Linked DNA regions of Homo sapiens. The protein of the gene in region 1 purifies or fractionates together with the protein of each later gene. This does not show direct contact. Each region holds a gene or a part of one and is shown on either strand. Other genes may lie near its edges.

Region 1 (8,247 bases):
TTCCAGAGATCATGTGATCATTGACATATATATATATATATGTATATGTATATATATATTTGTATATGTATATATATATTTGTATATGTATATATATATTTGTATATGTATATATATATATTTGTATATGTATATATAAAATGTATATACATACATGTGTATTTGTGTGTATGTATGTACATTTTATATATACATACACATATATTTAAATACAAACACACACACACTTACAGTGTTTTGTACAGATCATGTAAAGGAAAGTAAATGCAACCTAGCAACTGCAGCTGAACGGGACTCGTAGGCCAATGGGCATTCTGGTTAAATCTGTCTTTTAAGATTCTGTGGTGATCGTGCCGCCTGGCGTGGCTTCTCTCAGGACATGTGGAACCCATATTTACTCTCCTCTTTGTCTCTTCATCCACAGACGTTTAGAGAATTCTCGTTAAAATTACTTAGAAACAGAAAGACCTTGTTATAAAATAAATCTAGTTAAACACACTTTGTTGTGGTCCTCATTTGCGTGATGCATGGGCCTCATTTTCGTCTCTCTGTATCTTAACTGTGTGCATTAGGTGATTCATGCCAATTAATGCAGGATGTCACATCTCCAATTGCTTTCTCTATCTTCTTAAACATTAAAAATAAATATGTGCCATCTGTCTCATATCTTGAAAGCAATTCAAAATGGTTACTTTTGTTTTCTCAGGATTACAGCACAATTTGTAGCTGGAGTGCTTCTGAATTGCGAGAAAGCCCTGTCTGCATTTCATACATGTAATGTCATATTATGGTGGCTGCTGCAGATCGAACAGCAAAGGTTGGGCGAGACAGCAGTGTGGGATGGTGACAAAAAGCACGGTCTTTCGCATCTAAGAGACCTGGACCAGTATGCTGAGCCTGCTGCTTCCTAGCTGTGACCTCAGGAAAGTTGTGTTGTCTCTCAGGGCCTCAGTTTTCCTCATCTGTGAAATAGATATAACATCTACTGCAGCGGTCTCCAGCCTTCTTGGCACCAGGGATTGGTTTCACGGAAGACAGGTTTTCCACGGACCAGGGATGGTGGGACTTGGGGGTGGAGAAGGGTAGGGATAGGTGGGGGTGGGAGACGGTTTGGGGATAAATCTGTTTCACCTTAGATCACCAGGCATTAGGCCATTATATTCCCATAAGGAGCATGCCACCTGGATGCCTCGCATGCACGGTTCACAATAGGGTGGTTCATGCTCCTTTGAGAAGCTAATGCCACCACTGATCTGGAACAGTATCGATCCGTGGCCTGGGGGTTGGGGTCCTGTAATCTACAGCACAAGAAGTAGGAAGCAGACACCATTATCTGCATCATCATGAAATTTTGCTAGGAAAGTAATTCCGTTTGGCAAGGATGGTTGTTTAAAAGTAGCTCCTGGTGGCATAATATTAACAGAAAAGAGGGGAGTTAGGTGTGAAAGCTGTGTTCTTTCTCCGTAGCAATTACAGCAGAAAAGGAAGACACTTTCCTCCGATTGCCTGTGTTGTCCTTTGAGCACTCAGGTCAACTTGGATAGGGAACGGGGCCGGTAAAGTGGGGACACTTGGGAGACTTTGGGTCCATTTACAGCTACAACAGCACTTTTCAAAAATGGTGATTTTAATTTAAAAAATGGTATGCTATAACGCAACAAATGTCTAAATAACTTAACTGTAATTAGACGGGCAAAGGGCAATCTGAGAAAGTCCTAGTTTCCATTTGAGCACAGTTTTCCTCAACAATTCTTTCATGTAGCACAAGAGAAAGCTTTCTCGAGCTGAGGCCAGCACTCTGAAGATGGCGAACGTGTAATTTGAAGTGCACCCTATACTTACACACCACAGAATTGTAGTGCTATCGAGAATGCTGGATCCACGTGACCTAGCCCTATTTTAGCAATAAGCAAACTGAGGGTCGGTGTAGCTCAGCAAATTGTCCAAAGCACACAGCTCGTTCAAGCTAGAACATTTCCTTTCTTCTTTTAGCTAGGTTTCAAAAAATTTGTTAAGCAGACTGAAATTTTTTATACTTCTATAAATACCCTAAGGTTGCAGCCGATTCCTTGCACGGCAGCGCTAACAGCCTTATTTGAACATAACTTAGCTGTCCTGCATAGTCTTTCCATGACAAAGTGGTCAAGTCTTAATAGTAGCCGCGAATGACTATCAAGACTTTAAATTTAGACTGTACATTCGGGGCAATCCAACCATGAGTCATGTTGACATGTGCTTGGGGATAGAACACGCCCACGAATCCCGGCAATAATGTCGTCTGCTCCCCACGTCCTGCCCTACCACAGCTCCCTCCAAACTGCTGACATTTTTACCACAGTTATAGAAAGAAAATTAATGAACATTCCTAGTCTGGGCACACATCTTAACATCCATCCCCTCTCCAATTATAAAATTAAAAGCAACCACTGTAAATTCCCCACGTTTAGCAAAATGAAGAGCTATGGAGAGGAGTGAGCGCTTAAGCCACCTCAAGTAGAATATCCTTGTTGTCACACTAAGAAGCTGGTTCCCACGGAAACACATTGATTTACCCCATTGCTACTGATTGGCTTAGTGTAATCTGAAAATGGACTCCTACAAGGATCAAATTGTCCTGGTCCACACAGTAAAGCAAAGCTGAGATTACTTGCTAAACATTGCTCTAAAAAACAAAAGGCTGCCTATTTTCAAACAAACTCTACATTTAATGTATCTTATTGGCCTTAAAAGAAAAAAAAGAGATGTAACTCCTCTGGCAGTGATGTCATCTTTTATTTTCTGCCCTCCTTGACTGAGAGTGGGCTGAGGTTGTGAGAACAGCCCTCTGGCCTGGAGTCCCTCTGCCTCCTCCACCCCTCCCAGACATGCCTCAGCCAGGTGTGTGGCAGGGCTGGCTGGGGAAGGTAGGCCCAGCTCTAGCTGCGGAACTGGAGCAGGCTGTGGAGGCACAGAAGTGGCAGGGAAACACTCAAGTTTGTCGTTGTGCAGGTGCCTCTGCAATGCATTCCCTGGCTTGAGCAATGGAAGATCAAACCGGCATGGTTCCCTACTGTGCCCACAGCCGGGGGGTTGTTTTTGTCAGTCCTTGGAGAAGAGTATTTGATGCATTCAGGGAGGGCAATGTCAGGCTCGCTGACATCCTCTCCAGCTCCCAGGACAGGCTGTGGAAAGAGGAAGGGGCTGAGGTCGGTGAGTTGTTCTCAGGGTTGCTCAATGAAGATTTGCCCCCAGGAGGAAGCCAGGGTGATGAATGCAGGAGGAATCTGTTCCAACAACCCCCTTCCCCCAAAAAAAACAACCAGACTCAAGATGCTGATAAGAATTCTTTTATGTTATTCCAATAAAAAATACATTCATACAGAAATATAACAATCTTGCAAAAAACAATTTCAAATAAAATCTTGTAAAACAAAATTTTACAAAAATCTTACAAAGATTCTTTAGATAACAGGGTGCTTCCAAAAAAAAAAAAAAAAGAAATTTCACTAATAGAAATTTTTTTTTAATTTCAAGCAAAAAGTTTCTGCTTGATTGAGGCTCAGTTATCACCTGAACAGAATGTACTTCTTTATGTACGTGCTAATTATGAAAATCACAGGCATTGACAGGTACGGTACCCAGCCCCACCCAGGCAAACAGCTCCGACATGTTTCGTAAGTGAGACAAGCCAGTGCAAGTTTTTTTTTTTCCTTTTTTTTTTTTTGTCTTTTGCTTACCTTCTTGCTTAATGGAATTGTTATGGCTAAGCACATAGAAGGCCAAAAAAGGAGTTTTCCAAACCCAGCAAATCAAGTGCTTGGATTCTGAACTGCCAAAAGAAAACTGCACTTCCCCTCTTAAGTAAAACGAAATGAGTTTCTTAGGTAAATGTATTCATCAGCCCAGATAAAAAAAAAACCAGTTATGTGAGCGTTAGTCACTGCTCATTTCCAGGAAGATCAAACAAAATACCAGCCCAGCCAGACTCACATGTGTGTATATATATATAAAGCAAAGAGCCACACCCACAAGCCAGCAGCTGGGTGAAATATCAGCTGTCCACGCCGTGGTATGCCAATTCGGGGAAATTACTCCTTGGAAAAACTGGAAGAATCTACTTGCTGGAAAAAATAGCTTCATCTGCATAAAAAGTGTTCTACAAAAGAATCCCTGTGGTTAGCTTACTCTTAGGTTAGATCTTCTAATAAGGCTGAAATTCAAAATCAAAACCTTAGTGTGTCCGAGTCCAGCCTGGGTTCCAGCATTCTGTTCAGGCCACTTCTGAACGGCCGAAGGTGCCCCATTCCAGACCTGCCCATTTGATGGACAGAGCAGACAGCCCGGAACAGATTCAAGCAAGAAAGTCCTCCGCACATCGTTAAATTAAAGATAAAGCCTCTATAAAAGTTAGGTTATGGTTTTCATTTTTACCTCCTTTATGGCCATTTTGAAATATTTCTTCACAGGCTGTGGAATTTTCTAGCTAAACATTCTAGTTTCTCCTTAAAAAAAATATTTATATATTATCTATATATATAATATATATATATACACACATACACATACTGTACACACAAATATACATACACAAGAATTCTGCCCACTTTTTTAAAAAAGTAGTATACTTTCTGTATTACCAACAGATAGCTAGACAGATATGTGAAACTTGTGCCTTTTAAGCAAATACATTAACATTGGGGGTTTTTTAATACTTCTGTATCTTTAATATGTGTGAAAATGTTACATATTAAATACAGCCGGTGTGTGATCTATACAATTGTTGTGCAAGGTCTATATGAAAGTCTCAAGGTGGCAGAATTGGTCAGATTTTTCCATTTTCCTGTTTTCCATTTTAACACTGACAGTCAAGTTGCCTAAAGTGTTGAACAAATACTGACATGTAAAGGGAGTTTCACTCTATGTCTTTGTGAAGGAGGACCTTAAAGAGATTTTTTTTCTGTATTATACGTTGATACAGTACACTGCCAGGTGAAACAAGAGCCTTAATAAAGCATGCATCGCCCACACCCCTGTATGAGACCCCCACAGAAGGGATCGCTTGCGTAAGGCACCATTATGAAGGTCAACAGTGCATTAACAGCTAGAAAACCAGAAATTAGTCCTCAAGGCATAAATAAGAGAAACATAGCTGCATGAGAAAACAGTTTCTAAGCGTTAGTGGTTTTATCCACCCAACTGAGAAAAATTTTAGGTTCTTAAGTCTAATGAAACATTAGACCAGCAATTCCCAGCCCCAGCTTTGTGACACTCAATACGTGTCCAATTTCTTCTAAGGGCATCACAGAATTCTCCAAAAAGTTAATTCAAATTCAGAATCATTTAAAAATAATCCTGTGTTGCACAATGCCTTTCTGGAAGGGGAGTGTTACAAACTTGGAGGGGAAAAAAAATTGTATATTGCCAGGCCCGGATGGCTAGGGGGTCACTGTATTAGACAGATTGGATCTTAGCTGCTCATTAACTGGAATCAGTATTGCAGTCCTGACTTAAAAATGGAAAAGCATATAGTTCCCCAGACCATGCATGACTTTTTGTATTCTAAGGAAAAGTTAAATTGTTGTGTTATATTTGTAAATACACAGCTTATACAATGGGTTACAAATGAGCTATGTTGTAGCGTGTAAAACAAGCTACTTGACACATTGCACATTTAATAGCTGCACCAGACACTAAGAGTTCCTCTCACACAGAAAAGGGGGAGAGAGGCTCTCCCTCCCCACACCACTCGCCACTCTGGGGTCCTGAGTTCCCACGCCCACCCTCCAAGATTTTCCTTCTTTTTTTGTTTTTGTTTTTTTGTTTTTTTGATTTTTCTTTTTTTTTCTAAGGTGCAGACACCCCCTCCCCCCAAGGAAATGATTGGTGGTCATCTCATCTCATGGTATACTCCTTACACACAAAACATTCAAACTACTTTTTTTCCATCTCTTGCAGTCTTGCTAACCACAAGGAAAAAAAGTTGGCCTCATCATACGGTCAGTAATAGATCCTCAACATACAATCAACCCAACCATTAGCATTCTCAGTGTGCATGCTCACGGCAAAGGCTTAGGCGCCGCTCGGAAGGGCGGGTACCAGTGGCGAGTCCAGGGTCACCCACATACCATGCACCACGGGTGCTATGCCGCTTCTTACAGGACCTTTTTAGCCCTCAAAAGACCTTCCAAGGAGAGGCCCTGGAGGCAACTGGGTAGGGTGCAGAACGGCATGCTTTGGCTGGAACACGCATCCCTCCTTCCACGGCCGGCTCTCAGCCTGGAAGCCTTTTAGCCTACAGGATCCACCTCTCTGCTCCCTCAGAGGTGCCTCTTCATGTGCAGGGCCAGGTGGTCAGACCTGGAAAAACACCTGCAAGGGCAAATCAGAAGCACAGAAGAAGTTAGGTTCCCATCCCTTGCCAGTGTTCTGGACCAGCGCCCTCACCTCCCTGCCCTGCCCAGCCTAACCCCCTGCAGGGAAAGGTGGGATTCTCCTCCCAAGCCTCATCAGTGTCTTCAGGGACAGGAGATACCAACTGATAGGAATGTGAATTAAGAATGTCCCCCACCAGTGGCTGGAGGTTCTTTGGAGAATCTGAACGGACTTCATTTCTAATTCTTCAAATATGAAAACTGTTGAAAGGCCAATCTCCAAACATATCAATAAACTGACTCCAATGTCAGGTGTATGTGGAACAGTTCTTCCTAACCATGGACAATGAGCACACCAGAAACTTTCTAAAAAGTCCCAGGCTTGAAAAGAAATGTTCACACATAGGAAACTGCATGCCTTCCTTCGAATGTGCCCTGCACACCTACTCAACCCTGGTCATCACATTCCCAAGGCCCCACGCTCCTTGCCCAGCATTGTCCTCAGGCACGTACCTGTCACAGTGGGAGCATTTAAAAGGCTTGGCCCCGGTGTGCTTTCGGAAGTGCCTGGTTAACTCATCACTTCTTGCAAAACGCCACTCACACCCTTCCCATGAGCATCTGTAAGGCTTTTCTCCTGGGGAGAGAGCACAGGACAAGCAGCCCATGACTTCACTGACCCGCAGACGGAAAGGGGAAATTCAACAACACACACAGTGGTGGGATGCAAGGCCAGGGACCCAGTGGCTTCTGGCATCGGTAACACACAACAACTGGCAGCCTCAGAGAGACAACAGCAGCTCTCTCCTGACCCAGTCTCAGGCCTCCCACTGCTGTCCAAGGGACACAGCTTCAGCCAAGCCCATGGTGCTGTCATCAAAGTTAACGTGGAAGAACGACCACGACTCAGACCAGCAAAATGCTTGCGGGATGAGGTGTCAGCCTGCCGGACCCACAGCCCCGGCAAAGGCAGAGCTATTGCTTTCTTCATGGCAACTGTTTCTCCCAAACACACTTCTGTTCCATCCTCACTTCCCTATGGAATGTGCCTCTGCAGTTTCCTCAGGGACGTTCTACCTTTCTACAAAGCTGAAGTTACGAGCTTCTGGAAAGCCCCAGTACAGGGCCCCGGAATCATTCTCTAAATGGCAATTGAACAACTGGGTTCACTTCATTCCTTGGTCAAATCATAAATATGAATTTACTACAAGTGCTACCTGAGAAAACAAAGTTGTCAAGCCAATCTCAGGGTATGTTGAGACAGGCCTGGGCCTGGATATTGGGCCACCCGGATCTCAATCTCAGCTGTCACCAAGCCTGTCTGGGACTGACTCTCAGCAATTTGCTCTCCTACTGATAAGAGAAGAGCCTGCATCACGTGATCACTAAGACCCTTCCCAGTTCTAAATGTTCTGTGATTCCTCACCAATTATCCTAGAACATGTCAAGGTATTTTTAAATAGCACTTTCACCTAGGTATGGCATTTCATTAAGAAACTGTTTCAAGCGGTATCAGAAACAAAGGCTGCATGAGACACGGAGAAGTTCTCAGGAAACACTCGCTGATCAATGCTGCTGCTTACAGAGCAGGCCGGTCCCACTCGGGCCTCGGGCCGTCAGCATCAAACCCACACACTCCACGCTGCCCAGCAACCCTCTGTCCTGACCCTTGAGTTTCATTTAGGAAACCCCAGGGCCGCTCGAGGTAGCCTCGTGCGAGTGCACTGGTGAAGGGGCAGTGGCCTCGGATCCCCAGCACTACTAAGGGGTGGGGGGTGGAGGTTTGGGTGTCCGTGGAGAAAAGGATCTAGTCTCTTGTTTGTTTAATCTGAAAATTGTTACACATTTATCCAACTCAAAAGTCCAGTCTTTAGGATTCTACTCTGAACTCCAAAAA
Region 2 (8,175 bases), on another chromosome or scaffold:
CAAAAATAGCAATGGTATTAAAACTGTTCAGAATCGGCCAGACACGGTGGCTCGCACCTGTAACACTAGCACTTTGGGGGGCGGGGCAGGTGGATCACCTGAGGTCAGGAGTTGGAGACCAGCCCGACCAACATGATGAAACCCAGTCTCTACTAAAAATACAAAAAATAGGCCGGGCGCGGTGGCTCACGCCTGTGATCCCAGCACTTTGGGAGGCCAAGGCGGGCGGATCACGAGGTCAGGAGATTGAGACCATCCTGGCTAACACCGTGAAACCCCGTCTTTACTAAAAATACAAAAAAAAAAAATTAGCTGGGCGCGGTGGCGGGTACCTGTAGCCCCAGCTACTCAGGAGGCTGAGGCAGGAGAATGGCACGAACCCAGGAGGCGGAGCTTGCAGTGAGCCGAGATCGCACCACTACACTCCAGCCTGGGCAACAGAGCGACACTCTGTCTCAAAAAAAAATAAAAAAATAAAATAAAAATAAAAATACAAAAAATTAGCGGGGGGTGGTGGCGGGTGCCTGTAATCCCAGCTACTCAGGAGGCTGAGGCAGGAGAATTGCTTGAACCCGGGAGGTGGAGGTTGCAGTGAGCCAAGCCTGCACTCCAGCCTGGGCGACAAGAGTGAGACTCCGTCTCCAAAACAAAACAAAACCACCACCACCAAAAAACCTGTTCAGACTGAACACAGAACTCAAGGGCATTATTATAACAGATTACAAAGTGAATTTTCTATAGCTTTGCAAAAGTATCTAAATCCCATACATCCTTTTAACAGCAATTTTCATTATTGAAGACATGACTTAAGTACAAAAAGAAAAGTCCAAACTGTCAGCTTTCAGTCCTCCACATTCCCCTCTTTAATATGGTATTTTGCACTATATACATTAATGAAAATTTGAAACAAACAAAAAGAACTTTAGTCAAACTCCCCTTCCTCCTCCAGCTTTATTGGAATAGTTTAAAATTACATTTCTATTTTCTAGGACTTCAGTTGCTCTTTCCATCTGACTTTTAAAAACTGATTACAGCAAATGAAACACAGTTGTCTAAGTGATATAGTATACAAAAATAACATCTTGATTTCTGTGAAAATGCATTTCTCTGCAATTCCTGAATAGCTCCAAATTATGCTAACTCTGAGCATTGATGTTTACTCTGGGTTTTAGATTTAGTCTTTGAAAATAATGTGTTCTAAACCTTTGCCATCACCATCTATGTGTCCAACATCAACACTGTGATGAAGTTGTTCCTGTTTAGGCTTTTATTCCGATTTCTCTCGAACAGCCATTAACACGCATGTTTATCTTTTTGTTTACTCCCACTCAACTGTATGTTCTATGTAGGGCCTGATACAGATGTTACTTGATGTTATTTAATAGCTACTGAGGTCAGACAATCCAAGACCATCATTATACTAAAATTAAAGTTATTTATGGAAGTTCATAGACACTTCCAGAATTGGTTTTACCTCCTACATGGGAACATGTTCAAGGAACCCAGGACGGGCTTACTGGTCTGACTCAACTCTTCCCATTCATCAATCCCTATTCACCAGTGGCACGGAAAGGGGGTTCTTTAACAAAGCATTATACATAACACCTCTACCAAACTAAACATAAACTTTTTTTGTAGTTAAATGCAGAAAGTCGGTTTTTTTCCACCCCTTTCCTCCTTTTACACGGCAAGTAAAGCTCACTGGCCTGGGAGTTGCCTCTATCTGCCAACCTTTGGCCAGTGAAGAGGATTCAGAGAAAATAATACAACCATCAATCAGAAAAAGGAGGGGCGACAAAGGAAAATAATTAGGCTGTAGCCTCAATTGTGCATTCCCGTGCAAGGTGCCCTGACTCGCCACAGCGGTAACAGTTGACTTCACTTGTCTTGCTGCAGTTGATGGCTACATGACCAGTTTCACCACACCTAAAAAAGAAATTAAAAGTTTTCACAATGGGCCTCAGAAAAAAACTGTCTACCAAAGCAACAGTCACCATGCAGAACAAAACGCCTGATCTTTGTTTTCATGCAATTAACCCCTAAGGTTTCACAGATATGTACACAACAACATTTATCAAATTATACACTTACATGTCACAAACAGGCAAAGATTTCTGGTTACATGATAAAAGATTTATGTATATTACAGAGCTTTCTATGAAGTCTCTGGAAGTTTCAAATTATAACACTCTTACTTTTATATATTAAAAAAGTCCAGTTGTGAAAACTGCCCAGGTACCATAAGCCACAGGATATCAGGGCAGAATACAGAATTATATACAGATAGACTGCCAGTTACATATGCTGAAAATTGGTCTTATCTGGTCACAGCTAAGTTTCACTGAATTTACTAAGGCCCTTCCATTTATAGCTAATTCATCTCTGGAAGAATCTCTGCAATGAGTTTTCTTCTAACAACATTCTGACACCTTACCTATAGCACTTCACTTTGGTGCAGTCTTTTTGAATGTGTCCGAATTCTCCACAAGAATAGCATTTCTGCTCATCTGCATGGTCGCAGTCACGAGCCAGATGGCCTGGTTTGCCACAGTTGTAGCAGCATTGCTCTCGCTCTCTCTTGGGCTCCTTGCAGTCCTTGGCAATGTGGCCACCTCTACCGCAGTTATAGCAGGCTTCAACAATAAGGAAAAGAAACAGGCCAAGACTATAAAACCTTTACAAAGTGTTACGTTTTAAATTATACAATACAAAACCTCAAAGGTGGAAATGCTATACACAGTTGCATGTGCTCACCTCTCCAAGCTCTAGAGGGGTATGAAAAGGAAGTGTTAAATACTTACCATCCTCCTGAAGATCACAATCCTTGGCAAGATGACCAGACTCACCACAGCGATAACAAATGTCTGGAAGAGACGAGGAAACAAACTGGAAACCTGTTTTGAGCAAAAACAAAGAATTCGGCTAGTCAGACCAGTCTTGATACTAACAAATACTGAAGTACTTCAAATTTTTCTATTCGACAAAATACCTCTATCCGAGGTAAAACCACCTCTGCCACGGCTTCTCATTCCACGACCACGGCCTCCACCAGTAGGACATTCCCGGGCCCAGTGGCCAGATCGTCCACACTTGAAGCACTCATTGCTGCTCATGGCTGCAGTCAGATCTTTGAAATATTAAAAGTAACAGCATTAAACCACTGAAAGTTCTTTTAACTTTTATTCTCTATTAAATGTATTTTTGGAAAATTATTCTGGGGAAAAAAGCTAGCTAATATATTGGTTAAAAAAATAGCTGGGCATGGTGGCTCACGCCAGTAATCCCATCACTTTGGGAGGCCGAGGTGGGTGGATCATGAGATCGAGACCATCTTGGCTAACATGGTGAAACCCCGTCTCTACGAAAAATACAAAAAATTAGCCCGGTGAAGTGGCAGGCGCCTGTAATCCCAGCTACTTGGGAGGCTGAGGCAGGAGAATGGTGTGAACCCAGGAGGCGGAGCTTACAGTGAGCTGAGATGGTGCCACTGTACTCCAGCCTGGGCAACATTGAGACTCTGTCTCAAAAAAATAAAATAATCACACAACTACATGATTGGGTATTATAGACTTATTATAATATACACCTTGATAAAAGTGATGGAATTTACAGGGTTAGGGTCAATGAAAATCCATTAAGAGAAATAATTGGTAGTGGCTGGGCACGGTGGCTCATGCCTGTAATCCTAGCACTTTGGGAGGCTGAAGCGGGTGGACCATCTGAGGTCAGGAGTTTGAGACCAGTCTGGCCAACATGGCGAAACCCCGTCTCTACTAAAAATACAAAAAACAGCCGGGCATGGCGGCATGCGCCTGTAATCCCAGCTACTCAGGAGGCTGAGGCAGAAGAATCGCTTGAACCCGGGGGGTGGAGGTTGCAGTGAGCCGAGATCATACCACTGCACTCCAGCCTAGGGGACAAAGTGAGACAGACAGGCAGGCAGGCAGGCAGGCAGGCAGGCAGACAGGCAGACAGGCAGCCAGGCAGGCAGGCAGGCAGGCAGGCAGGCAGGCAGACAGACAGACAGACAGACAGACAGACAGACAGACAGACACACACACACACACACACACACACACACACACACACTGGCAGTAATACTCATTCACTCATTCCAAGTCCAACTTAATGGACACATTTGCATGGTTATAAGGCCTATATAAGCTTTATTTTGGGCAAATAGAAGTCATTTATTTACTCACATCAAAAAATTGGAATAACCCAAACCAATGAAGCTGTAAAATGGATTCTCGGAGTGAGGAGTCAGTGAAGGAAAATACTCTCTTAACCTTAGCACCTGACGTAGTACCTAGTTATACTGCAGCACTTGCCTGGTGACTGAGATATTCCTTAGAACAGATATGTTAAAACAAATGCAAGATACAAATCTTATCTCTAGATGGTACAAGTACAGTAGGCCCTCTATATCCATGGGTTCTGCATCCATGGCTTCAACCAACCTTGGAATAAAAATATTCAGTGGAAAAGTTGCATCTGTATTGAACATGCAGACTTTTCTTGCCATTATTCCCTAAACAATACAATGTTAACAACTACTTATTCAGCATTTACATTGTGTTAGGTATTATAAGTAATCTAAAGATGATTTTAAAGTATATGGGAAGATGTGCAAAGGTTGTAATGCAAGTACTACACTATTTTATATTGGGAACTTGAGCATAGGAGGATTTTGGTATTTGAGGGAGTTTGTGGAACCACTTCACAGATACCAAGAGATGACTGTATAATAAAAATAGTAGGAAAACGACCATGAGTTACACCAAAGCGCTAATAATAGCACCTACAGCACTGGCAACATTTGTGTTTTGTTTTCTTTTATTCTCCCCTTTCCAAATGTTTCTGTAATGTAATTTTACATTTTAAACAATGCTACTTAGAATTTCATAATAAACTCCTTTAATTGGTTATCATTTTAAAATAAAAATAAAACTCCCACTAAAGCAAATGGATTTTGTACTTATGTAACAATCTAAAAATAAATTGAGGCTATTCTTAAAATAGAATGAAATGGAATAGAACATAATGAAAACAATGCAACTACATTTTCACACTTCCATATCTAAATATTTTTACCCTTAATTCCACTGTCAAACAATGGCACACAAAGTCGTATTTTAAATATCCTCTCAAACCTAAGCACAGGCACCATCATCTAGAAAAACATATTTCCAACTGAGTAAAACTTGAGTGGATAATCGAATTAGCTAACCTAACCACAGTGCCAAAGACCCAAAACGCAGTCCGAAAAATGGCAAGGTTCTCCACTTTCAGTAACTGTTTAATCATTAACTTGTGGACAAATTTAGTGACTTAAAATTACACTGAAGTTGAGTTTCAAAAAGTTCCCATTGTCAAATATACAAAAGAAAATAACACAATACTCACTTACCCCAACTCTGTGTAATCTGATTTAGGATAAATTCTTAGAGAAATCTTTCTACTAACTCTTGCCACTTGCCTATGAACATATTACCAAAAAAATTATATGGCTATGAGTTACTGGTGCTTTCAGATATACAAAACATTTCTAGTCAGAACAAACAGCCAGTGAAGGATATTAAAAACAGATTTTTACAGAATTTGAAATAGTATCTGCTTTGTAATCATTCTTTTAACTGTACTAGTATTAGCATCCTAAATTATGTGAAGTATTTGCTGGTTTCCACCACAGAAGAGTCAGAATTAAAAAAAAAAAAAAAAAAAAAAAAACGAATGGCGGGCAGGGCACGGTGGCTCACACCTGTAATCCCAGCACTTTGGGAGGCCGACGAGGATGGTTCACCTGAGGTTGGGAGTTCGAGACCAGCCTCACCAAGAAGGAGAAACCCCGTCTCTACTAAAAATGCAAAATTAGCCAGGCTTGGTGGCTCATGCCTATAATCCCAGCTACTCAGGAGGCGGAGGCAGGATAATCTCTTGAACCCGGGAGGTGGAGGTTGTTGCAAGCCAAGCAATTGCACTCCAACGTGGGTTACAAGAGTGAAACTCCATCTCAAAAAAAAAAAAAAAAAGGCATATAAAATGGTCAAAGAAAAAAGGCTGCTTATGGCACCACTTCCTCCCCATCTTCATTTTGTATCTTCTCCAATTTAGTCAGATCAGCTTGAGCTCATTTAACTATTGATCTCAAGGAATTATTTGCACATAAATGATTACTTTTACAGTGTAATCCAGACAATTTGCAAGGCCTGAATATCTTATAATTTAATATTTAAACAAGATACATCTCTTTTAGAAAATACAAAACAAGGATGGGCACAGTGGCTCACACCTGTAATCCCAGCACTTTGGGACGCCAAGGCAGGAGGATCACCTGAGGTCAGGAGTTGGACATCAGCCTGACCAACACAGTGAAACTCCATCTCTACTAAAAACACAAAATTAGGGCAGGCGTGGTGGCTCACGCCTGTAATCTCAGCACTTTGGGAGGCAGGCGGATCATGAGGTCAGGAAATCAAGACCATCCTGGCCAACATGGTGAAACCCCAAATCTACTAAAATAAAAAAATTACCCAGGCGTGGTGGTAACGCGCCTGTAGTCCTAGCTACTCGAGAGGCTGAGGCAGGAGAATCGCTTGAACCCGGGAGGTGGAGGTTGCAGTGAGCTGAGACTGGGCCACCACACTCCAACCTGGGTGACAGAGCAAGACTCCGTCTTCAAAGAAAGAAAGAAAGAAAAAAAACTATTCTGTAAAACAGATATGCATCTCAGTGGCAAAGGCAGAACTTTACACACTAGAATATAACAGAAGTTTTAGATGTTTTGCTTTTTTTTTTTTTTTTTTGAGACAGTCTCGCTCTGTCACCAGGCTGGAGTGCGGTGGCGCCATCTTGGCTCACTGCAACCTTCACCTCCTGGGTTCAAGCGATTCCCCTGCCTCAGCCTCCCACATAGCTGGGACTACAGGCGTGCACCACCACGCCCAGGTAATTTTTTGTATTTTAGTAGAGACGGGGTTTCACCATGTTGGCCAGGATGGTCTCGATCTCCTGACCTAGTGATCCACCCGCCTTGGCCTCCCAAAGTGTTAGGATTACAGGCGTGAGCCACTGCGCCCAGCCTGTTTTGCCATTTTTAGTCACACATAATTTTGTTTACTAGAGTAAATTAATGCTAATAAAGAAAACACTAAGTCTTAAAAGGGAAGAAAAACATTAATAGCCTCCAAATGTCATCAACATGACACGTGATTTTAAAAGAGGTCTTTGAGTGGCCTTAGGTACTATGTATGCAATCTGCCCTCTCCTCCCTTTGGCTAACCCTATCGCAGTGAATCAGGTGGTCTACAGTTTCACTGGTAACTGGTCCCTTGTGATAGACTTGTCTCTTTAATAACATTATTAAACTAACCACTTTCCACAATGTTTTAGACTCACACTACTTATATTAGGCAGCAGGTCCCCATCCTAGCACTCATCTCATATGAACATTATTTAGTTTAAAGGTCTTTACAGAATTCCATGATATTCCTTAGGAAAACTAAGGTAAGGTAAGACAGCTGAGAATCATGGCTCCATGAGTCTGTCTCATTGCCTGTGACTGCTCCTGGCTGGAATTTCACTGCACTGTCCTGGTCTCCCCTGCTCCTTTTCCACCTGTCACAACTTTTTCCAACCTTCACGGGCCAACTCAAATGCCAACTCTATAAAAGAATCTGACTACATCTCCCAGCCTGGAACTACCCTCCCTATTAAGTCCCAAGACACTTTGTTAATATCTGTCTAATGGCAGTACCATATTGCCTTGTATCATATTCCTTGAAGGTAGAGACCAAGTAATTCACCTTTGAATCATCGAACACCCCATATAGTTATCCTTTTAGTAGCCATTATGTAACTCAGTATTTTAATTCTAGGGGGACAGGTGTCTTTAGCAATTTGGTGAAACTAACTGACCCAATCCAATCTAATCAAGTACTAACAACAAAGCACCTAAATTATTGCTATCAGTCACAAGAGTTACTGCACCATTAATTTAAAGTAATGATGTATTCTCAATTTTGTACTCACTAAGGACTGACTACAGTCACTCTCTGAAACTCTCAGCTTTCTGAAATCATAGGTGAGATTCTGCCCAGATGAATTTAGGATCCACAACTTTCAGCTTCTGACAGGGATTAGGGCCAACCACTCAAAGGACATTCCCAATGTAAT
Region 3 (3,746 bases), on another chromosome or scaffold:
CTCTACAGATGTTATTAATAAGTACAAATCATAAGGCTTACTGTTAAATGGCTACAGGGAAAGACCACATTCCAGAACATATGCCATAGCAGGCAACAACTCCAGAAGTGTAAACTTTGGTTAGAAGATCCCCACTCTAAGGTTTGGTATTCCCATGTACTGAAAGCTTGAATCCCAAATTGATATGAAATTCTATCATTCATCAGAAAGGAATTTTGACCCAGTTACTGTATACCTTGCCTGAAAATTGACAGCAATGGTGAAATCAAGTTCAGACACAGGATCTCCACATGTTTGAAACAAACATATCAGATAGCAATCTAGGGGGAACAGCACAGATGCAGGAATGCTTACCAATCAACCCTTGTGGTTGGCTGCTATATAGAACAGAGACTATGACCTGGACAGGCACAAGAGAGAGCATTTATTATATGGGAGCATTCAACATAACCCAAATAACATTAGCACTTTTTGTCATGATCTATTTACCCAAATTCATTCATCCCACTGTACTTCTTTTGTGTAACAAGACAGGAAACACAAGGCTTAGGGAGCCTTAGCATGCAAACCCCAAATCTTTGTCCCCAGCTTCCAATGCCTGAATTCATTGACAATTTTTAACAGTGTCACAAAGTGTGAAAATACTATGTTAGAAACCAGCTGAGCTGCCAGACTACTGCCTTAGAGTGAAAATGAGCCCAGTGTCTTTCAGACTCAGAAACTGGAACCTTGTCATACCAGCAATGTCTGCAGAGCAAGGAAATGGACAACAATGTATGGAACAGTAAACATCTGAAGGAGTAATAACCTACATATTACTTTAATTGCTGGCGTATACCTTCAGGAACCCTAGCAAATAAATGTCACAAGTGGAGCAGGCTGGCAGACTACCATTCCCTGACACCTACTTGGTCCTCAGGACCTATCTTTTCCCTCCTTGTATATATAAGGCTGGCTTTCAAATTACCTTCAGACCCATATTCTCATACCTGAAACAAAGGCACCTGAGCAGCACTCCGCACTCCTTAACTCTTGAAGTTTTCTACAATCCAGTCCAGTCCCTCCTGCTGCTGTCTCTTACTGGTTTTCCAAAAAATAGAAATAAAGATCAGAACTTTGGTGTTAAAAAGTCAAAATCAGGTTTATTTGAAATCAGAACAGTCTAAGTTTGTCAATGTCTCTGTAACAGCGGCACCCACAGTGTACATGAGGAACACAATTAAGAAGTAGAAAAATATGCCCCTGTCTAATGAAAGGAACAGGTTGTAGAAACAGAGTCAGTATCATGGAGTCAGCAGTACTTAGGAAGAGTGACTACCACTGTTGGTAGTCCCTATCTCTAGAACTCTAGGAAGGGGTTTCAATGCCATCATTAATGATGCACAGGGGACAGGAGGAGGGGGCTGCCCTTCATAAGACACTAGTCACCTCACACAATGTAAGGACACCCTGAACTTGTCTAGGTGATCTTGACAATTGATTCCAATTCCATCTTTTTCACATTACAGAACCATAGGCTCACTGGTACTGGACTTTTCCATCACAGGTTCTGAAGGAGATGGTGACTGTATGAATCTGCCAAGAGACTTGCCTGTGGATGGACAGCCCAGCACCACTGCAGGAAAATTACATAACTTGGAACTCATTTTGGTGGATGGCTGGGGAACACTTCCTTTTCCACTTATTCAGAGAAACTTCTGAAAATGGTTGGTTGGATCAAGGTACCCAATCATACAGGGTGAAACATAATATAATAGGAACTGCATTAATCTTGTGGTTACAAGATCAGACAAGACTATTGCTTCAGAGGTTTGATTGTCCCTTCAAAATAAACTATAGTTCATCTTGCTTTAATCAAACATTATAGGGGAATTATATATTAAGCTAATAGGCAAGATCTCAACTTCTAGAAAGGGGAGTCTCAAAGATGTCAGTTGATTGTATTCATTACCATGGTGAAAAAGACTCATACAGGATCACAGATAACAAATTTTTGAAATCGGAGGTTTGAGTTGTTCACCAGCTTATACAATAGCATTCTCATGGTGTATTCGTGTAAGTAATTAGTAACACAGTAAGTTAGAAAAACATGGACATCAGAAGGAAGCTAGTATCATTTAGGATAATTTCACGAATAATTGCAACCATTAAATAATGTTGGTGCCATCTGACACTGAGAATAGATCTTCAAAGAAATAATCCACAAAAGTTTACAGTTGCTAATATTGGCTTTTGTGGGTATGCTCTTTGGAAAATATCCCCTCTAGGATTCTATGGGCGAAGTGGACATAAGAAAAGTGCCTTCGGCCTAATACCTGGATCTAAATTCTAAATTCTAGGGTTAAATTATTATTTAAGATCTAGGGCTCTGCTCAAAAAGTCAGGATCTATGAGGCTAGTTAATATCTTAATTCCTGAAATCTTGGCACCTTATATTAGCAAAGGCAGAGGTAACTTTCATTCTTACCAGCAACTGATTTTTCAGGTTTCTAAATTCAATCTAGAAGGATATTTGGAAAACACCAACTTTCTACCAATAAAGGTACTAATAAGTCATTCAGATGCTAGATAATATATATAATTCAAATCCAAATCAAGAATAAACCAGGCTAGGCCAGGCACAGTGGCTCACGCCTGTAATCTCAACACTTGGGAGGTTGAGGCAGGTGAATGTCTTGAGCCCAGGAGTTGGAGACCAGCCTGGGCAACATGGCAAAACCCCATCTCTCAAAAACAAAAAGAAAAACAAAACAAAACAACAACAATGACAACAAACCATGCATTGCGGTGTGCACATCCCAGCTACCAGCTACTTGGGAGGATGAGGTGGGGGGATCACTTGAGCCCAGGAAGGCAGAGGTTGCAGTGAGCTAAGATTACTGCCACTGCACTCCAGCCTGGGTGACAGAGTGAAACCTCTCTCTCTCAAAAAAACAAAAAGTAAAATTAAATAAACATTTTAATCAGTATCCAGAAAAATTACTAGATTAAATCATTCAACAAATATTACTTGAGTGCCTGCTATATATCAGGCACTATTAGAGACACCACGTTTATAGCACGGAAGAAAAAAGTTCTTGCCCCCATGGAGCTTAAAGTCTATTGAGGAGGAAGAAAAATTAGCCAGGCATGGTGGCACATGCCTATAGTCTCAGCTACTCAGGAGGCTGAGGTGGAAGGATTGCTTGAGCCCAGAAGTCAAGGCTGCAGTGAACCACGATGGCACCACTGCACTCTAGCCTAGGCGACAGAGTGAGACTCTGTGTCCAAAAAAGAAAAAAAAATCCTCAACTCTCATAGCATTATTTAACAGATAATGTCAAAAAAGAAATATAAGCCAGGTGCAGTGGCTCACGTCTATAATCTGAGCACTTTGGAAGGCCAAGTGGGGTGGATCACTTAAACCCAGGAGTTGGAGATCAGCCTGGGCAACATGGCAAAATTCCGTCTCTATAAAAAATACAAAAATTAGCCAGGTGGGTTGGCATATGCCTTCAGTCCCAGCTACTCAGGAGGCTGAGGTGGAAGGATCACTTGAGCCCAGGAGGTCGAGGCTGTAGAGTGCCGTGATCACACCACTGCACTCCATCCTGGGTAACAAAGCCAGACCCTGTCTCAAAAAAAAAAAAAAAAAAAAAAAAAAGAGTAAACCAGGCCAAAGACTAATAAGTAAATTCAATCAGCACCATTTAAAAAAATACTTACACTTTATCCTCAAAGCAAAAATCTTGTTTCTCAGTGATTAT
Region 4 (8,390 bases), on another chromosome or scaffold:
AGCGTGAGCCACGGCGCCCAGCCTCAATTGTGTTTTCTCTGCCCTGGGAAGAGCTCATAGACAAATGGAGGCAGGGGAGCTGACTCACTGATGGAGCGAGGTCTGCATTCCACGGGTTTTCTGTGCAGTTATGGGAGCATGACAGGGGAGGCTCCAAAATGGAGGTTGAGCTGGGTCTTATAGAATAAATAAGTTTGCTGGGACCAGAGACATGGGTGTGCACAGACTCAGAGGCAAGAAAGTTGTATGATGAGGGTGGGGGGGTGTGCGGATAGAGGTTGAAGCCCAAAAGCCCTGAAAGTTCAGTGTTGAGGCTCAGGGTGGGGACCCTAGAGAGGCAAAAGATGCCCAGCCAGATGGAATTGGTGGTGTGAATTGCCAGGACTGGAAAGAGCCCAGATGGGGGCTGCAGCATGGGCCTTGGTTGAAGCCTCTAATCCTGTAAGGGCTGCTTTGGCCCAAGAGGCCTTAGAAACCCGGTGTAAGCCTCAATCGGTAGCCGGTCTGGCCTCTTTCTCACACTTAACCGACACAGCTCTTGCTCTGATCTCATCCCAAGTCATCTCGCTGGAGGACAATTAACTCGGCTTCAAAATGGCCCTCAGCCTGGAGCCAAGATTTAGGAGCAAGACCGTCTAGTTGGGAGAGAAGATGTTTTTGGAGAGTTGAAGACTTCTTGAAAAAGTTCGAAAAGTTCTTGAAAAAGCAAAGGATGCTTCTTTCCGTCTGGGAGAGGGAAAACCTCTCCCAGGGCAAAAGGAACTAAGACCAGGGGTGGGTTAAAAAAAAAAAAAAAAAAACCTTTCACTCTTGTAGAATAAGCCAGGAGCCGGCGTGTGGTAGACTTCTGGGCCTGTTTCCCGACAGCTGGTTTCGTTTAGATTTTTGTGTGATTAACTGACATCTTCCTGTTCCTTTGCCACATGTATCTAGCAAGCCTCTTTTACCTTATAAGGGAAATCCTTTGTAGCGTGTGGAAGGCTTTGATTGCAGGAAGGGGTGGAACCCAAAATGACTCGGCCGTGACTAGCAGTTTTTCAAAAATACATATATATGTATGCATGTACAGATATGCGTGTATCTCCCAACTCCAGACAGCTGAAAATCTGCCAAAAGCGTTGTTTGCCAGGATTCAGAATTTCCCACATAAGGGCTACTCACTTCTTAAAAGACAACTCATGAATCAAGCACCTCTGTTTGATCTTTAAAATCAATTCCTCGACTGCTAATGGGTACACAGTTTTTTGTTTGTTTGTTTGTCTTTGGCGGGTTATGAAAATGTCCTGGAATTCGATAATGGTGTTGGTTGCAGAGTGTTTTTGCAACATCAGTTCCTGGCCCAGTTACTGAAGGTGGTAGGAGGAGTTAAGATCTAGGCAATTAAAAAGAATGAAAGGCACCCATTCATGGGAAGGCCTCAGTGACGTTTCTTAAGACAGTTTCATCAGTGGTTTTCACAATTCTCTGCATTTGGTGTTTCAGAGGACACTGCAATACGAAACACCTGTGGGAGTGCCCTCTTTCTGCTTCTAGGAATCTGAGGCTGAGAAACCTTCCTGACTCTATTTGTGTAGTTTTTCGGCCACGTTAGCCTCATTCTATTTTTTTTTCCCCCAGTATGAACTCAGGGCAGGAGAGGGAGTGGTTTCCTAATAATTTTTTTTTTTTGAGACGGAATCTTGCTCTGTTACCCAGGCTGGAGTGCAGTGGCGCGATCTCGGCTCATTGCAACCTTCACCTCCCGGGTTCAAGCGATTCTCCTGCCTCAGCCTCCCAAGTAGCTGGGATTACAGGCGCCTGCCCCCACACCCAACTGATTTTTTTGTATTTTTAGTAGAGATGCGGTTTCACCATGTTGGCCAGGCTGGTCTCGAACTCCTGACCTCATGTGATCCACCCACCTCCGCCTCCCAAAGTGTTAGGATTACGGATGTGAGCCACCGCGCCCGGCCTTCCTAATAATTTTGATAGCCTTCCCCAGTTCAGGGATTCTTCATTTGTTCTGATAGGAAAAAGCTAGCGTGGCTTCCCTTTTCCTCTCGGTTGAGGCCCGTTTGACCCGTTCTCAATATTCCTTCCAAAGAGCAGGCATCGCTGGAAAACTCGCCTTGCCTCGTAGCCCTGGCAGGACCTAGGGGACAGGTTCTGACAAGGAAGAGCCCTGGGTGGGTCTTAAGAGGCCATTCATTTCTTACCAATTCTGAGTCACTGAATAAAACCACTTCCCCCAGTGGGGCCCCTCGGTTTCTTCACCTGTAAAATGGGTGCGATGTGTGAGGATGAAATTGCAGTAAAATAAAACCGTGGCAGTAAGAGATGCCTTTCTCTGGCACATCCCACCTGCTGGGCATAAGCGGCGCCACCCTCTGGAGTTACAGCCTCAAGGCAGTCCGGTAACTAATCAGGCTTTGGGATGGAGAGGGCCAGGATGAGGAAGCAACCTTCCCAACACCACGTGGCTGTGAAAATGACAAAGCACGGTCGGGCGCAGTGGCTCACGCCTGTAATCCCAGTACTTTGGGAGACCAAGGCGGGTGGATCACGTGAGGCCAGGAGTTTGAGACCAGCCTGACCAACAAGACGAAACCCTGTCTCTACTAAAAATACAAAAAAATAGCAAGGCGTGGTGGTGTCCGTCTGTAATCCCAGCTACTCAGGAGGCTGAGGCAGAATTGCTTGAACCCGGGAGGTAGAAGTTGCAGCAAGCCGAGATCATGCCATTGCACTCCAGCCTTGGTGACGGCGCAAGACTCCATCTCAAAAAAAAAATTAAAAAGAAAATGACAAAGCGGGGATTCCAGCCCAGCACTTTTTGGCCCTGGAGTTCCTGGTTTAATGCTTCCCATTGTACTTCCTTTCTTGTAGGTAAAAACACCTTGAAAAGCCAATAACACTATTGGGGTATGTCTTCCATGCCTGCAACCAAGTTTTCTTTCCCTTTCCATATCTTTTTGTCCTGCCATCTCTCAGCCAGGCGGATTGAAGGATGGAATTCCAACGAGGCTCCCCCGCCTCGTCCCACCTTGGTAATTGCATGGCCAACATTTAACTGAGGGCTCCATAGTCTTGCATTTATCTTGCCATTCAGGTGAATGGGAGCGGAACTCACAGGACACAATGAGCCGGGTCACTGATGGCCTTGCTTTCTAAGAATCTCACAGTGAGCCCTAGAACTCTCTACGTGGTAACACTGTGTGCCTTTTTCAGAGAAGAGCCTATCTTAGATCTTAGCCTAACGTTGGGTCTATTGTGTTGCTGGAGAGACCAGCACTGACATTCATCTCAAAGCACATGGTATGTTTGACTCCTATGTTGACTCAACTACCCATCTTGTACTGGGACACTCGCTTTTTTTTTTTTTTTTTGAGACGGAGTCTTGCTCTGTCACCAGGCTGGAGTGCAGTGGCACGATCTCAGCTCACGGCAACCTCCGCCTCCCGGGTTCAAGTGATTCTTCTGCCTCAGCCTCCTGAGCATGTGGAACTACAGGCACGTGCCACCACACTCAGCTAATTTTTCTATTTTTAGTAGAGACAGGGTTTCACCACGTTGGCCAGGATGGTCTCGATCTCTTGACCTTGTGATACACCCACCTCAGCCTCCCAAAGTGCTGGGATTACAGGCATGAGCCACCACGCTTGGCGATGCTCATCTTTTGCTATGGAGTGGTAGATGTTTTTCCCAGACATTTTCCGGGAAGATCATACTGAAATTTTGGTATGAGTGTAAATTCCCTATGGCCTGGACTCCTGGGTGGGCTTTGACGGGGAAGATCAGGTTAACAGAGGGCAGGACATGGGGGAGGCTCCCACTGGTGGCTGGCCTGATACTTCTTAACATGGCTGCACCTCCGACCTCCCCAGGCTGAAGGTGATGTGGCCGCCCTCAACCGACGCATCCAGCTCGTTGAGGAGGAGTTGGACAGGGCTCAGGAACGACTGGCCACGGCCCTGCAGAAGCTGGAGGAGGCAGAAAAAGCTGCAGATGAGAGTGAGAGGTAAGGACGCTTTGAATCTGGTGGCATCCGTGTTTGCTTTTAGAAAATGGGGATCATGCTGCCGACCTCGCAGAGCTGGTGTGAAAGTAAACAAGGTCACAAGGACATGCATGTGTCCACAAAAAAGTGCATGACAGCACTTTGTAAACCATCACTCCATGGGTAGAGATGTTTATCCGTGGCCAGGCACGGTGGCTCATGCCTGTAATCCCAGCACTTTGGGAGGCCAAGGCGGACGGATCACCTGAGGTTGGGAGTTTGAGACCAGCCTGGCCAACATGGTGAAACCCCGTCTTTCCTAAAAGTACAAAAAAATTAGCCTGCCATGGTGGCGGGCACCTGTAATCCCAGCTACTCAGGAGGCTGAGGCAAGAGAATCTCTTGAACCCAGGAGGCAGAGGCTGCAGTGAGCCGAGATCGTGCCATTGCACTCCAGCCTGGGCAACAAGAGCAAAACTCCATCTCAAAATAAAGTGAGGGGTGTTTATCCTTACGGTAACCATGAAAAGAAACTTCCGACAGACAGAAAGGCAAACAGAACGGGCAGATGTGAGACTGCAAGTATGACTGTCCATGGTGGTCAGTTTGCAAAGCACTGCTTCTCGTATTTTCTCTGAAAGCCACAGTGCCTCTTAGTGTTCTCTAGACACCAAATTTCAGGTAGGCCGGATGCAGTGATTCCTGCCTGTGCTCCCAGCACTTTGGGAGGCAGAGGCGGGCAAATCGCCTGAGCTCAGGAGTTCAAGACCAACTGGGGCAATGTGGTGAGACCCTGTCTCTACAAAAAATACAAAAATTAGCCGGGTGTGGTGGTGCACGCCTGTACTCCTGGCTACTCAAGAGGCTGAGGTGGGAGGATCACTTGACCCCAAGAGTTTGAAGCTGCAGTGAGGCAAGATTGTGCCACTGCACTCCAGCCTCAGTGACAGATGAGATTCTGTCTCAAAAAAAAAAAAAAAAAAAAAAAAGCAGAGTACTGTGGAGAGGAGGAAAGGAAACTTGGGATGCACAGGTGATTGTTAGCAGAGCTGTCAGGCTTTAGGCTTTTGGACGGTGACAGCTATTTCAGGGACAGTTGCAAACCAGCATGGTTAATGTACTTGCAACTGACCATGCACCAGGTGCCGTGGCTCACGCCTATAATCCCAGCACTTTGCGATGACGAGGCGGGTGGATCAACTGAGGTCAGGTGTTTGAGACCAGACTGGCCAACATGGTGAAACCCCGTCTCTATTAAAAATACACAAATTAGCTGGGCGTGGTGGCGGGCACCTGTAATCCCACCTACTCAGGAGGCTAAGGCAAGATCCCCCAGCTTGAACCCAGGAGGCAGAGGGTGCAGTGAGCCAAGATCGCACCACTGCACTCCAGCCTGGGCAACAGAGTGAGACTCTGTCTCAAAAAGAAACTGACCACGTTCCTCACCCGCCCATGGTATCTGTGCTGCAACCCAGCCACCAGTAGGGTGCCTTCTCCTCGGTAGCCAGATCATTCTCTGGCACGCCTTGGCACAGGCTCTCTGGAAGACTGAGGGTAGATTGTGTAATTCACAGAAGCAGCAGTCTGTGTGTGGTGGAAAAGGAGTTCCTTGTGTGGCAATGGTGTGGGCCCGACCAGTGATCATCGCGTCTGCCCCTCATTCACACCGGAGTTCTCACTTGAGCCAGCCACCATGCTTTTGCAGTATAAACACCTCCCAAAGATTCATTTCTTTTTTTTTTTTTTTTTTTGAGACAGGGTCTTACTCTATCACCCAGGCTGGAATGTAGTGGTGCGATCACAGCTCACTGCAGCCTCGACCTCCTGGGCTCAAGCGATCCTCCCGCCACGGCCTCCAGAGTTCCAGAGTAAAGCTGGGACTACAGGCGCATGCCATCATGCCCAGCTAATTTTTTTTTGAGACAGAGTCTCGCTCTGTCGCCCAGGCTGGAGTGCACTGGCGTGATCTCAGCTCACTACAAGCTTCACCTCCTGGGTTCACGACATTCTCCTGCCTCAGCCTCCCAAGTAGCTGGGACTACAGGCACCCGCCACCACACCCGGCTAATTTTTTTGTATTTTTAGTAGAGACAGGGTTTCACCGTGTTAGCCACGATGTTCTCAAGCTCCTGACCTTGTAATCCACCTGCCTTGGCCTCCCAAAGTGCTGGCACGCCTAGCTAATTTAAGATGCATTTCTGGTTGTGCTGCTGTGACCACTAACCAGAGATTAGAAACCAGCTAAGGAATCTTGGAGATTGCATGTCACCCAAGCTGGAAATTTCTTCCCAAGTAGTGGAACAGCCAGGGCAGAGGGAACAGACGCTACTGCAGACTCTGCTTCAGCCACTGAATCAAGGGAGAGAGTGGCAGCTCCGGCAGCCACGGGGCAGTGGAAGGACCCAGTCACGAGAGTTCCTGGCTGTGCCTGTGGCCTGGGTTAGCTGCTGTTCACAGTCAGACCAGCCTGGCTGGATGCTGACGTTGAGGGCTCCCATATTGGCAAACCAAGGGAGGCTGCGAAGGCCAGTCTCTTGTTTGCACCATGTCCCCAGAGGCCTTTGGTGACACCCCTGTTAAAGACTGCTGTGTCTCAGTAGAAAGAATTATATACTTGAAGCTTGGGGATCTAGAGTCAGCTTCTACCACTGGCACTTTCTATGGAGCCTTAGGCAAGTCACTTTGATCTCTTGGGTACTACAAGGGGTTTTGGGGCAATAAATAACCCAGAGAGCTTGCTCACATGCTGAGGGTGAGACCTCGTACAGGTGGGGGAGGGTGTTTTGAGACTTAGCTGAGAACGGGTGACACCCCACGTGAACATATTTATTGGACAGCAAGAAGCATATGGTCTCTGTGCTGGGTGGGAATGATACATATCAATGACACATTATCCCAGGCTGGCCTCTTCTTTTCTTTTCTTTTCTTGTTTTAAATACACAAGGTCTTGGCAGGGTGCGGTGGCTCACACCTGTAATCCCAGCCCTTTGGGAGGCGGGCGGATCGCTTGAGCCCAGGAGTTTGAGACCAGCCTGCGCAACATAGTGAGACCCCATCTCTACAAAAAAATATTAAAAATTAGCCAGGCATGGTAGTGCATGCTGGTAGTCCCAGCCACTCAAGGGACTGAGGTGGGAGAATCACCTGATCCCAGGAAGGCAAGGTTGCAGTGAGCTATGATTACACCACTACACTCCAGCCTGGGCAACAGAGTGAGAACCTGTCTCAAGAAAAAAAATAAATAAATACACAACGTCTTGCTCTGTCACCCAGGCTGGAGAGCAGTGGTGCAATCACGACTCACCGCAGCCTTGAACTCCTGGGCTCAAGCGATCCTCCTACCTCAGCAACATTGCAAAACCCCCACCTCCACAAAAAATTTTTTTTTAGTTTAGCTGGGTGCAGTGGTGCACACCTATAGTCCCAGCTACTCAGGAGGCCGAGGCAACAGGATTGCTTGAGCCTGAGAGGACAAGGCTGCCGTGAGCTCTCAGGGCACCACTGCACTCCAACCTGGGCAACAGAGTGAGACACCATCTCTCAAAATAAAAGAAAAAGAAAGGGGGCACAGACTCTGGAGTCAGACTGCCAAGGGCTGAGCCTCAGCTCTACCACTTACCAGCTCTGTAACCTTAAGTTACTTACCCTCTCTCTATGCCTTAGTTTCTTCATTTGTAAAATGTGGATAATTTACCTGCTCCATAGGGCAGTTGTGAAAGTGAAGGCACTTAGAAAAGTGCCTGGTAGTAAAGATGAAGGGAGGCTGGGCGCGGTGGCTCACACCTGTAATCCCAGCACTCTGGGAGGTCAAGGCGGGCAGATCACTTGAGGTCAGGAGTTCCAGACCAGCCTGGCCAACATGGCGAAACCCCCTCTCTACTAAAAATATAAAAGTTAGCCGGTCACGGTGGTGCATGCCTATAGTCCCGGCTATGCTGGAGGCTGAGACAGGAGAATTGCTTGAACCCAGGAGATGGAGGCTGCAGTGAGCTGAGATCACACTACTGCACTCCAGCCTGGGTGACAGAGCGAGACTCCATCTCAAAAAAAAAAAAAAAAACCAAGATGAAGGAAATGTGTGCACAGAGTTCCATCTTTGCAGTGTGTTACAGTGCTCAGTAGATTCAGAGACTCATTTAGATGAGAGATGGGACTAGGGGTGGTGTCTCACGCAATTAGCCAGACATGGTGACGGGTGCCTGTAATTCCAGCTACTCAGGAGGCTGAGGCAGGAGAATCGCTTGAACCCGGGAGGTGGAGGTTGCAGTGAGCTGAGATCGTGCCACTGCACTCCAGCCTGGATGACAGAGCGAGACTCCATCTGAAAGAAAAGATAGATGAGAGGTGGGTGGAGGGGTGTGAGTGAACGGCCGTCCTGATGAGATTGCTCCTTGCAGAGGAATGAAGGTGATAG

The links.
Region 2: the proteins of KLF6 (region 1) and CNBP purify together in Homo sapiens (affinity purification with mass spectrometry; one large-scale study listed by BioGRID and IntAct). This does not show direct contact.
Region 3: the proteins of KLF6 (region 1) and USP26 purify together in Homo sapiens (affinity purification with western blotting; one study listed by BioGRID). This does not show direct contact.
Region 4: the proteins of KLF6 (region 1) and TPM4 purify together in Homo sapiens (affinity purification with mass spectrometry; one large-scale study listed by BioGRID and IntAct). This does not show direct contact.

The regions. Positions count from the first base shown.
Region 1 is NC_000010.11:3,773,243-3,781,489, forward strand, and holds the end of KLF6 (Krueppel-like factor 6), read right to left. Parts: intron 6,988-8,247; coding exon 6,864-6,987; intron 6,349-6,863; coding exon 6,297-6,348; 3' UTR 2,754-6,296; downstream 1-2,753.
Region 2 is NC_000003.12:129,168,645-129,176,819, forward strand, and holds part of CNBP (CCHC-type zinc finger nucleic acid binding protein), read right to left. Parts: intron 3,128-8,175; 5' UTR 3,114-3,127; coding exon 2,990-3,113; intron 2,895-2,989; coding exon 2,802-2,894; intron 2,640-2,801; coding exon of another isoform or gene 2,634-2,639; coding exon 2,435-2,633; intron 1,927-2,434; coding exon 1,809-1,926; 3' UTR 1-1,808. UniProt on the Homo sapiens protein: Single-stranded DNA-binding protein that preferentially binds to the sterol regulatory element (SRE) sequence 5'-GTGCGGTG-3', and thereby mediates transcriptional repression. Has a role as transactivator of the Myc promoter.
Region 3 is NC_000023.11:133,090,364-133,094,109, forward strand, and holds part of USP26 (ubiquitin carboxyl-terminal hydrolase 26), read right to left. Parts: intron 1,081-3,746; 5' UTR 990-1,080; intron 401-989; 5' UTR 355-400; intron 1-354. UniProt on the Homo sapiens protein: Deubiquitinase regulating several biological processes through the deubiquitination of components of these processes.
Region 4 is NC_000019.10:16,078,050-16,086,439, forward strand, and holds part of TPM4 (tropomyosin alpha-4 chain), read left to right. Parts: intron 1-2,865; exon of another isoform or gene 2,866-2,903; coding exon of another isoform or gene 2,904-3,026; intron 3,027-3,863; coding exon 3,864-3,997; intron 3,998-8,373; coding exon 8,374-8,390. UniProt on the Homo sapiens protein: Binds to actin filaments in muscle and non-muscle cells. Plays a central role, in association with the troponin complex, in the calcium dependent regulation of vertebrate striated muscle contraction.